Regions from separate parts of the Homo sapiens genome. Here region 2 is linked to region 1. Evidence: fine-mapped expression QTL. A gene starts in region 1. The other region holds a variant in brackets. All regions are shown on one strand. Distances are between the middles of the regions. Region 1 holds the start of RETSAT (retinol saturase). Region 2 overlaps TGOLN2 (trans-golgi network protein 2).

Region 1 (5,348 bases):
TTTGGTGATTCATTGTGCTGAACAACTTCCTGCAGGCATCTGTGTACCTGAGATTCATTTCATCCTTCCTTTCCTTCTCCAATTCAGTCCCCTCCAGTGTCCAAAGACTTCCCTCTTTGGAACAGTTCGCATATTACTACAGTGAAGAAAATCTTTCTGGAGACCCAAAGCAAAGGCTTTGTCCCAGTCTGGCCACTGAATCCCACAGCCTCCATTTAAGACCATTTTTGGGTGGGCAAAGTAGTGTGAAAGGTAAGGCATGTAGGGTTAGCTGCCCGGCTCATACAAAGACATATCACATTGAACTGAGTCCTGAGGATGATCAGGCCAAAGCAAGCGTTTCACAGGGAAGAGGCTAGTAAGGTAATGATCCAAATCAATGAAATACAGATTTCTTGGGTGATTCCTCAATGAAATTCTCCCCACTACCCAAGCAAAAAGAAAACAAAAATCTCATAACTCACTTACAAAACAAGCTATTAGGAAAAGCAATTGACCCTGAGGTGAATAGAAGCTCCTTCTTACAGAACAAAGAGAACTATAATGAGGGTTTCTAAATTTTTCCAAATATTCTCTTAATATATTCTTACTATACTTAATGATATATCTCAAACCAACACCACCTTTCCCAAATAAGAGTGCATGCTTACCTGTCCATCTCTTAATTCTTCTTTACTATGGAAAGAGCAAGATTTTTCATTCATGACTCAAAATCATTTGTTCATGTGAGCTTTGTCCTTGGGCCCAGAAAGCATTTTAGTAAGGTCTGAGATCAGAAGCTATGTGGAGAGCCAGAGATCCAGTTGCTCTACCTTTGCCTTCCTTGGCAGTCACTCAGACTAAGAGTAAGAAAACAGTCCCTTTGTGCCATCCGAGGGTGTAGGAGGTTTCTGTGAGTGCTGAGAGAAGTCCTCTGAGGTCTTCGAAGCCTCAGCTCTGCACAAAAGAAAAAAAAGAAATTGAAAAAGAAAACTGGTTTCACCATTCAGTTATGCCTCTGTTGACAATTTTTTTTTTTTTTTGAGTTGGAGTCTTGCCCTGTTGCCCAGGCTGGAGTGCAGCCGTGCGATCTCGGCTCACTGCAACCTCCGCCTCCCGGGTTCAAGCGATTCTCCTGTCCCAGTCTCCCGAGTAGCTGGAATTACAGGCGTGCGCCACCACACCCTGCTAATTTTTGTATTTTTAGTAGAGATGGGGTTTCACTATGTTGGTTAGGCTGGTCTTGAACTCCTGACCTCGTGATCCGCCTGCCTCGGCCTTCCAAAGTGCTGGGATTACAGGCATGAGCCAACACGCTCGGCCTGTTGACAAAATTTAAGCAGCTGTGAATTTATTCTGAATGAACAACTTGCCTCAGCCAAATGCTTACCTCTTACTACCCAAGCCACAGGATGGCCAAAAGGGGACCACACAGGGGACTGTGAGCTGGATTCTGTGTCCAAAAGGCAGCAGCACCACTAGAAGGGATGGGGTCTGTTTCTGACAATGGAGTTACTGGGACCTGGGCCAGCTTATCAAAGGCGTGAGGCTAAAGGTGTCACCTTGGTGGGTGGTCTTAGCTGAAGTGCTCAGGCTTTGTTTAGGCCTCACACACAGGCTGGGTCAGGGGCTTATAATACTAGACCTGGTTCCAACAATGGTAGAAATTCAAAATGCAACACGATGTTCTAACCTTTCTCAGTTATCAGCAATACTGTGCATGTGGCAGCTGGCTAGCCAGTTTGGGCAATTCTAAGTCTTTCATCTGACATTGCTTCCCTCAGGAAAAGGGCTGGACAAGGCTCATACCTCATCACAGGGGAATTGGACATCCGGAATGTCTGTCACATCAAAAATTGCATCCTAAGTGGGCAGATGGCCCACACACAACTGACAATCATAGTTCACAACTTTGGGTGACTAAGGAAGGAGGGTAGCCTCTCTATGAGGTCAGCCCTCCAGGATGCCATAAAAACTGGCTGCTGGTGTCAGGATGCTTTGATTATTAACACTGAGAGGAAGAATACCTCCTGGCTCTTGGGCTTGACATGTGGCTCACTGTAATCCGGGGGACAGGGCAATGCCCCCTTAGTCCTGGCACCCCAGGAACTAAACTGCTCTCACTGTGGCCTCTGGGGCCTCAACATCTGCCTCCCCTTTCCTTTTCCTCCATCATGGCCTCCATGACAGCCTATGACAAAACACACATTGGCCAGCCTTGGCAAGGTGACAGGCGGGTATGGTAATAGCAATCTCAGGAGGGCTCTTCTGTTGCTGTGTAGAAAATGAACCAAGTAGCATAGAATCGTGACCAGCTTTCCACACCTGGCTGGAGCACTCCTGGGGCCTTCAGTAGGGACAGTTACTATCTGTAGCAGAGAAGAAAAGAGCAACAATTCCATTAAACAAGGAAGTACTCAAAGGCAAATTCCTGATAGTTGGACCTAAGGAAACGGCCTTCCTGTAAAAATGGATCCTTCTCCAATCAAGTATTCATTATGCACCCTCTTTAGGCAAGGAGGGGGTATGATTCTTCAACTGCTTGCTGGAGGTTAGATTCTCTGCATAGGAATTTAAATTAGATGGGCCCTTAGCTGATCCTTTCACCATGCTTGTCCATGGGCGGCTCCCCGTCCCCCAGGTTCCCCACGGATGGGGTGTCATTAGGGACCCGCCATAGAGGACTCCGTCCCAGGCGGGCCCCCAGGACAAAACTATGGGCCACTTTGAGGGGCACAGAGACAGACGCTCACCGGTTGTGATGCGCAGGTAACAGAGAGCTCAATTCATCATGACAACCAGTCAGACAGGGGCTGTGAGCAGCCTTTGGACAGAACTTTCGCATAGCCTGGAGGCGTAAGACGAGGAAAGCAATTTAACACCTCAAGGCAGCGAGTCCAGGGCAGAGCCAGGACCAGAACTCAGGACTCCTGTCTCCCAGTCGGGATTCTCTTTCAGTCTTACAACTCTCGGCCTTGTCTCGCCCCATAGTGATAATTTCCACCGGATCACATTCTCCCTCCCTCCTCAGGCCGGCTGCTAGCTCCGCACAGGCACCAACCACTCCCCTTGGCAAGTGTTAACGCGTTCTCACCGTTAAAAGAGCTTTCCAAACTTGGGGGTCCCGCCGCCTCGGCTAGGCCTCATCTGCTCATGCGCACAGCCGCTTCCGTGCCGGCTCCCCTGGCCCCGAGAACTACATTTCCCAGTAGGCAATGGAAACCCAAAAGAAGTACGGAGAGCCGGGAGGGTCAATCATCACCTGAGAGTTGGCTCTTCGCTGGCTGGCTGGTTAATCAGTGCTCAAAGCTGCCTCCGCCTCCTGACTGGAGAGCGAACTAGCCCGGGCGGAGCCACAGTCCTAGAGGCTGAGCGCAGTCGGAGCTGTCCCATTTACCCGACCCGACGCCGGCGTGATGTGGCTTCCGCTGGTGCTGCTCCTGGCTGTGCTGCTGCTGGCCGTCCTCTGCAAAGTTTACTTGGGACTATTCTCTGGCAGCTCCCCGAATCCTTTCTCCGAAGATGTCAAACGGCCCCCAGCGCCCCTGGTAACTGACAAGGAGGCCAGGAAGAAGGTTCTCAAACAAGGTAGCAGGAGGGACCCTGGGGTCCGGGGCTGCACTCGAGGCTTTCTCACAGATTTGGGTTCTCATTTTGCCAAGGCAGCCGCTACCAGACGTGGGCCTTAGTTTCCCCATATGTAAAGTACTAGGAGGGCTTCCTTGCACGTGGAGGAGCCCCGCTTTAGTGTGCAACACTGTCGATAGCCTTTGCCCTAGTAGGCCCCGGGAATAGTAGTCCCAAGGGTGTGGTCATTGTCCTTGGTTTGCAAGGTGTTGGCACCCGCCCTGCCACTTGTAATCCCCGTGGCTCGTGGAACTGATAATCCCCGTGACTCATTCCTCCACTTGGTTCCAGGACCTTAACTTTTTCACCTACCCTCCCATGCGAGCTCAGGGGTGTGGGGGAGCAGCACAGAAATGCGTAGGAAATTGCGTTTTGCCCGTCCGGTGATTTAACAGGCTTTGCATGGTCCCAAATCGTAAGGATTGAACCCTAGTTCTGAAACATTGGCAGAGGTTCAACAAGGCGCCTCAGGCTCAGAGCCTGCTCTCCACTCTCATCTTTAAAACATATTTTGTGGTTGCTTCTAGAGTTTAAAGAGTTCTGCTGCTTTAAAAAATAATGGATCACCTGTTTGATCTACGGAGTCCCTCTCACTTGTAAATTTTAGAATTCTCCGTGTCATATCTTGCTACACAATCGGAGACAGTACTGTTCTAAGTGGAAGGACTAATCATCTGGACTTCTGAGAACTGAGTTTTAGCTTGGACTCTGTCACTAATTTGCTGCATAACCATTAGCACCTACCTGGGCTGGTCTAAAAATGAGATGACTAGCTTAACTGCTTTTCAAACCGGATTGTGATCTATTAGTGGGCTATGAAATCAATTTAGTGAGTTGCAACTGGCATTATTTATTTATTTATTGAAACAGAGTCTCGCTCTATTGTCCATGCTAGAGTGCAGTGGCGCGATCTCCGCTCACCGCAACTTCCGCCTCCTGGGTTCAAGTGATTATCCTGCCTCAGCCTCCCGAGTAGTGGGCATGCCCAGCTAATTTTTGTATTTTTAGTAGAGACAGGGTTTCACCATGTTGTCAAGGCTCTCGAACTCCTGGCCTCAAGCGATCCGCCCACCTCGGCCTCCCAAAGTGTTGGGATTACAGGCGTGAGCCATCACGCCTGGCCACAACTAGTATTTTAGAATGCAGTAGAATAGAAAATATCAGAGTGCATTATACATAGTTCCACTAAGTATTGCATTGTGACACTTGTTTCATGTATTTATCTTATATACTTACATGTGAAATTTTTTTTTACTATTGATCTCTCTAAAAACATTAAAAAAATAAGCAGTTTGCCAAGTTCTCTTGTATCTTGAAACATCCCAGATCTCAGTTCTTTGCCAGTGATTGTTAAAGAACAGATCTTGTGTCGGAAGTACCCATATAGCACCACTTGCTATCCAGTTTTGTCTTCTGAGAAGGTGCTGCCTCCCTCAGCACTGCCCCCAGACCTTCCCTATGGGAGGGGCTGGTGCTGTGATTTCTCAGAGCTGCAGCCTCTGAGCAGTTCTGTCCTGCCCAAGCCTTTTCATCAGGACCTGGAAGAGCCACCATAAGACCCAGCTATTCCACTATTGCTTGCAGACCCTGCATCTTCCAAAGAAACCCGGCTTGTGGGCTGGTGTGTTGGCTCATGCCTGTAATCCCAGCAATTTGGGAGGCCGAGGTGGGTGGATCACTTGAGGCCAGGAGTTCAAGATCAGCCTGGGCAACATAGCAAGACTTTGGCTCTATAAAACATA
Region 2 (5,371 bases), 39 kb after region 1:
ATGATGGCTTCCAGTGACACATGTGCTGATAGAATTCTAAACCTCTGGAATTTCCCTGCTGGCGACTTCTATGGCCGTTGACTGTACAGGGTAACCTGATGCCAGATGCTATGGGCGTGATGAGAACTAGAGCATTGCAGCATGGAGGAAACTGTGAGGCACCAGATCCTGTGCTTCTGCAGGCCATTTTCTGAAAACCCCTGTTAGGAAGGTTGGATTTGGCGTGACTTGCTTGAGCAAGAGTCCTGGGGAGAGATTTTGAGGTTTAATTTAACGGTATATCCAGAGCTAACAGTGACTCAACTCGTCTAGTTCTGCAAGTCAGATGTACACTTAGAGTCTCTCTGTGAAGGGTTTGGGTCTGAGCTGTATAGTATGTCAAACTGCCAGTAAGCCAGCCCCTCACCCTCTGATAGATATTCCTTTAATGCACCAGACTTCATGTTTGATAAATGATTAATGGTTGAAATTGTTTCTCTTCTTTTGTGTTTTCCCAGTTAATAGATGGTCACTGTTTCCACAATGTTTTATACTTTCAGCTTTTTGTAACTTAACTATAATTACTTAATTTTATTTTTTTAAAGCTTGTTGTGGTCTAATGAGAAGTATTTTTCAGTGCATAATGTTTTTCTGAGCTTCTGTAAATGCCATCCCAATGTGGTTTGGTTTTGTTGAACAGAAACCAAAATAAATTTCAAAATGTTAAAGCAATGGATTTAATACATTTATTTATTTATTTATTTTATTTTATTTTTGAGACAGAGTCTTGCTCTGTCACCAGGCTGGAGTGCAGTGGTATGATCTTGGCTCACTGCAACCTCCGCCTCCCAGGTTCAAGCGATTCTCCTGCCTCAGCCTCCCGAGTAGCTGGGACTACAGGTGCGTGCCACCACGCCCAGCTAATTTTTGCATTTTTAGTGGAGACGGGGTTTCACCATGTTGGCCAGGATGGTCTCAATCTCTTCTTCGTGATCCGCCCACTTTGGCCTCCCAAAGTGCTGGGATTACAGGTGTAAGCCACCACGCTCGGCCAATAAATTTATTAATATTATATTAAGATGAACTCCAATAAGACCTTTGGCATGTCAGTTTAACATAAGTGAAAGGTCCTTTTTATGCCTTTTGAGCCTTCCTTCACCTTCCATCCAACACACACATGTACCAGTAAATTGCAGATGCCATTTCTGGGCTTTGCACACTTTCTCTGGCTTTCCATGTTCTGCTCCTGACCAACTCTCTTGCCACCTGACTCCTCCCAGCCTGGCTGCCTGCTTTCAGTAGCTGGGCCATTGCTGGGAACACTCTGTTGCCTCCCTGTGCTGTCCTCTGCTGTGCCATTGTGTGGAATGCCCTGCAGCCTGCCTCAACACAATGAAGTAATCTTACCAGTCGATGCCCTGACTCCTGACGTCACCCTTCCCTGCCCTGTGTCACCTTTCCCTGCATATTTGGAGGATAAGGCTTGATTGAGGCTCGGGTACCGAGCTCCCTGAAGGTGCCTTGATGCTGGCACATCGAGAACCAGATGCCACCCCGATGATAAGGAAGACAGACCCGGGACTTCCATATGAATTGGGTATGATCGTCTGACATGCACCCTACTAACTGATGGATCCTGCTGTTACCCCAAAGCTCCAGAACCACACTGGCCAGACACAGGCATTTCCTGTCCCCTGAAGAGCCACTGAACCCAGCACAAAAGAGATCTAGAGCTCTCCAAACCTATGGAATGGCAACCAAAACCATGCCCAGGTTTTGAGTTAAGCCTCATTAGTCTCCCTTTTCCCTTGACAGTGTAGAACTGTGCAGCGTAGCACTAAGTGAATGAGAGCAGAAGCCTCAGGACAGAACTGAACCCACCAGCTTGAGCTGACAACACTGCCAGGGGTTCTGTCCACAGATGGAATATTCGCTTTGATCACTGAGTTAGGAGGCATGGGTGAGGGATGCAGAGCGCCGCTCGTCATGAGACATCAAGCTATCCAAGTCAATATCCTATTAGTAGGGATGGCATATTATAGAAGGTGGAAAGATCTCACCTGCCCCAGCTGGAAACAGTGATTCCATTGCCCCAGATTCGGAATTGTGATTTAAACTAGGCCTCTCTTCAGGCATCAGAACCAAATAAGAGTGGTTTATATGTGCAAGGAACTAATGCCCCAGCTATTGGGCAAATTCCTCTGACTCCTCCCTGATGGAACTAATTCTTCTGTGCCCAGATCCTAGAGACAAGATCCTTAAGGTCTGAGTACAAGTTCCACTTCAGGATGGCGCTGCTGCACAGCAGGGCACCTTGCAGGGCCCCTACCAGTCCACAGGTGAAGATACCCTGGCCTAGGAGGCAAGAGCAGAGGCCCCTGAGTGTGCACCCAGGCAGGCCCAGGGGAGGGTGGGGCCTTGGTGCTCTTCCCTCCACATGAGGGCCACCCAGAGCTGGCTCCAATCAGACAGGGGCCACAGCCTGCCCAGGCAGCCCTGCTCAGGGGATGGGAGGCTGCAGGGGACAGCAGGGCCTGAGGGCAGGAACAGAGGACGTTGGGCGACAGGGGCCCAGGGTCTCAGGTCCTGACAACATGGGGCAGTGAGTATACCTGTCAGAGGTTGGTGATGGGGCTCTGGGCCTTCAAGGCCATCACACGAGGGTGCAGGCGGCCCAGGTCATGGTCAGCCCTGTAGCAGACACCTCGGGGAGCAGCCAGAACTGGTTGGTGAGTGGGGATCCTGCAGTCACACTCTCCACCTGAGGGCAGAAAGGGTGGGGCAGGCATGTGAGATCCTGGCTCCCCTCCCTCTTCCACTCTTTCCCATTCACTGACTCCGGGGTTGGGTGCCCTGTCCTTCCCTGGGGCTCATGTCTTGGGGCCCAATTCCCCTGTCTCAAGGAAAGGGCAGAAATAGCACCATGAGGTCCGTCACCACCCCAAATACTTTACCCCCTACCTTCCCCTCCAGCTGTGGGAACAGTTTCAGGACCACTGACATAGAGGCTTCCACAAAGAAGTTTTTGAAGGTCTCATAGTCACTGCCCTACTTTCCCTTCAGTTCCACCTGCCACTCCTCAAACCACTCGTAGGTGCTGGGTATGAGCATGATCATGGTGGACCGGCCTGGGGATCAGAGCTGATATTACTACTGCCCGGCCCCTCCCTCCACCCCCTCACCCAGGACGTGCAGCCCCCCGTGGGAATCGGTCCTCCCAGGTCGGATCCTTGGCTGATGGGAAAGCGAAGAAGAGAAGAGGGATGTGTTCCGCAGCCTCTTCCCTGGGCATGGAGATGTAGCGCTCCATCCTGCGTGTGAC[AAG/G]AGTGTGGTGCGATCTCCAGGCTTTTGTCCTCAAAACCCCAGAACCACTGCAAGGACTGCTCGTCCCTAGGGACTCCCCACAGGGGTGAAGCTGAGCCACAGCCTTGGTGTGACAAACTTCCAGGTGCAAATTGGAAATTGCCTACTTCCTCCCATTCCATAACTTCTGCTCGTTCTCTGAGTCAAGCAGGGAGGCACGGGCCACACACACACGTGCACCTTACGCCTGGTCCATGTCCGTGTCATAGTAAACATAGTAGTTGGTGGACGGCAGATGCAGGTCCTCCTTGGTGCCTCGCAGGCAGATGAAAACAGAGGTCATGCCTAAGCCGGGCTGAACTGTCCCCAGCTGCTGCTTCACACCTGCAAAGGGGAGTGGTTGGTGCCTTTGTGGACCATGGCCGGAGACAGCCACTCCCTGCTCCCAGGAGAGCCTCAGGGTGACCGCTCGCTGTGTCCTGAGCCTTATCTTCAGTTGCCAGCTTTGTGCCCAGGCCACTTTTACAGCTGTTTCAACTTGATGTTGGCAGGGGCCTGCTCTTCTGTGTCCTCCTGCCTGGGAAGGACACTGCCCCAGGTTCCTATTCTTCCACCTCCCCTGCCTCTGCTCCAAGCCCCTTCAGAGGCAGGTAAAGCCCAGCCCTGGTCCTCAGCCCCCATGAGCTGGCTCAGCACCTGCAGGAAGGTCAAGCTTACTGCCTCCCATCTTCCCCTTCGTGTCTTGAAGTGTGGAGCACATGACTGGGTTCCCCCCATGAAGACCACACATGAACAGCAGCTCATTACCAGCCTGATTTCAGGATGAACTTTTATGCAGTCACGGAGTGAGTGAACATGCATGATTCTTAGTGTGACATCAGAACACAAGGCCTCCAGAGGGATGCCAATGCATGTGAGCAAAGGCAGGCAGCCTGACTGGTACTTGGCATCTCAGGACTCAGCTGGAGGGAGGAGGGAAGAACTACACTATGGCAGAGGCCACAGCCACTGTGGGGCACCTGATGTTCCCCAGACCTAAACAGCTGGGCTTCCCCACTCCTCAGCAGATGACCTGAGACCGGTGTTCCGGAAACTGCCCCCACAGATTCTTCTGCTGTCTTCCCATTCCCGTGCCAGAGGGATGCCGGGTCCCTGGCTCCTCTGCTTTTTCCATTTTTTAAAAAATTTATTTATTTTTAGATGGAGTCTTGCTCCGTCGCCCAGGCTGGCATGCAGTTGCGCGATCTCTGTTCACTGCAACCGCCTCCCGTGCTCAAGCGATTCTCCTGCCTCAGCCTCCCAAGTAGCTGGGATTACAGGCATGTACCACCACACCCACTAATGTTTGTATTTTCGGTAGAGATGGGGTTTCACCACGTTGGCCAGGCTATTTTCAAACTCCTGACCTCAAGTGATCTGCCTGCCTCGTCCTCCCAAAGTGCTGGGATTGAAGGCGTGAGTCACCGTGCCCGGCCTGCTTCGTTCATGTAACTAAATATTTGTGAGGCCCTCAGGTTGTGTTCAGGAGGAAGAGACACAGGAACACAGATGGAGGGCAAGAGGGACAGATGGCTCTAGCTGGGCTGCCTGGGTGAGATGCTGGGGCCTGGCCAGGACAGTGTCAGTTCCCAGAGGTCCTGGGACAGGGGAGAAGGGAGGTCAGGGTCACAGAGAGAGAGGCAGGAAGTAGCAAAGGCAGAGTCTGCCTGTGCACCAAGCCCGACCCCCCTGCTCTGCCCCTGGGCCGTCTCTACCTCACCCCCTCAGCTCCCCCGGTCTGAGAGAGGGGAGGCCGAGCAGGCTGCAGACCCAGCCACATGGGGCAGGGGAAGGAGAGGCTGGCATTGGTGGAGCCACCCACTGCACTGCCAGTCATACAAAGAAGTCTATCACACAGAATTATGTGCAGTATTTTTTTTTTTTGAGACAGAGTTTTGATCTTGTCTCTCAGGCTGGGTTGCAATGGCACAATCTCGGCTCACTGCAACCTCCACCTCCTGGCTTCAAGCGATTCTCTGGCCTCAGCCTCCCGAGTAGCTGGGACTACAGGCGGCCGCCACCATGCCCGGGTAAGTTTTGTATTTTTAGT

What was found. PIP is the estimated chance that this variant, and not a neighbour inherited with it, causes the effect. A credible set is the group of variants that fine-mapping cannot tell apart.
Region 2: its variant is the best candidate, but not a certain one, in a credible set for the expression of RETSAT in whole blood (TOPMed, PIP 0.74).

What each region holds. Positions count from the first base shown.
Region 1 is chr2:85,352,555-85,357,902 of GRCh38, reverse strand. It overlaps RETSAT (retinol saturase), which reads left to right and starts at 3,375. Exons shown (of 11, transcript NM_017750.4): 1 at 3,375-3,567. The coding sequence starts at 3,396. ELMOD3 (ELMO domain containing 3) reads right to left here and starts at 3,134. Exons shown (of 14, transcript NM_001135022.2): 1 at 3,074-3,134; 2 at 2,733-2,827; 3 at 2,305-2,348; 4 at 651-936. The coding sequence starts at 704. RefSeq lists enhancers at 2,678-2,737, 2,372-2,871, 2,908-3,307, 2,872-3,373.
Region 2 is chr2:85,313,367-85,318,737 of GRCh38, reverse strand. TGOLN2 (trans-golgi network protein 2) reads left to right here. Exons shown (of 4, transcript NM_006464.4): 4 at 1-711. Among named protein-coding and RNA genes, the nearest start is that of TGOLN2, 12 kb to the left of the region's middle. RefSeq lists an enhancer at 4,853-5,353. The variant AAG/G (reference allele first, on the strand shown) is at 3,302.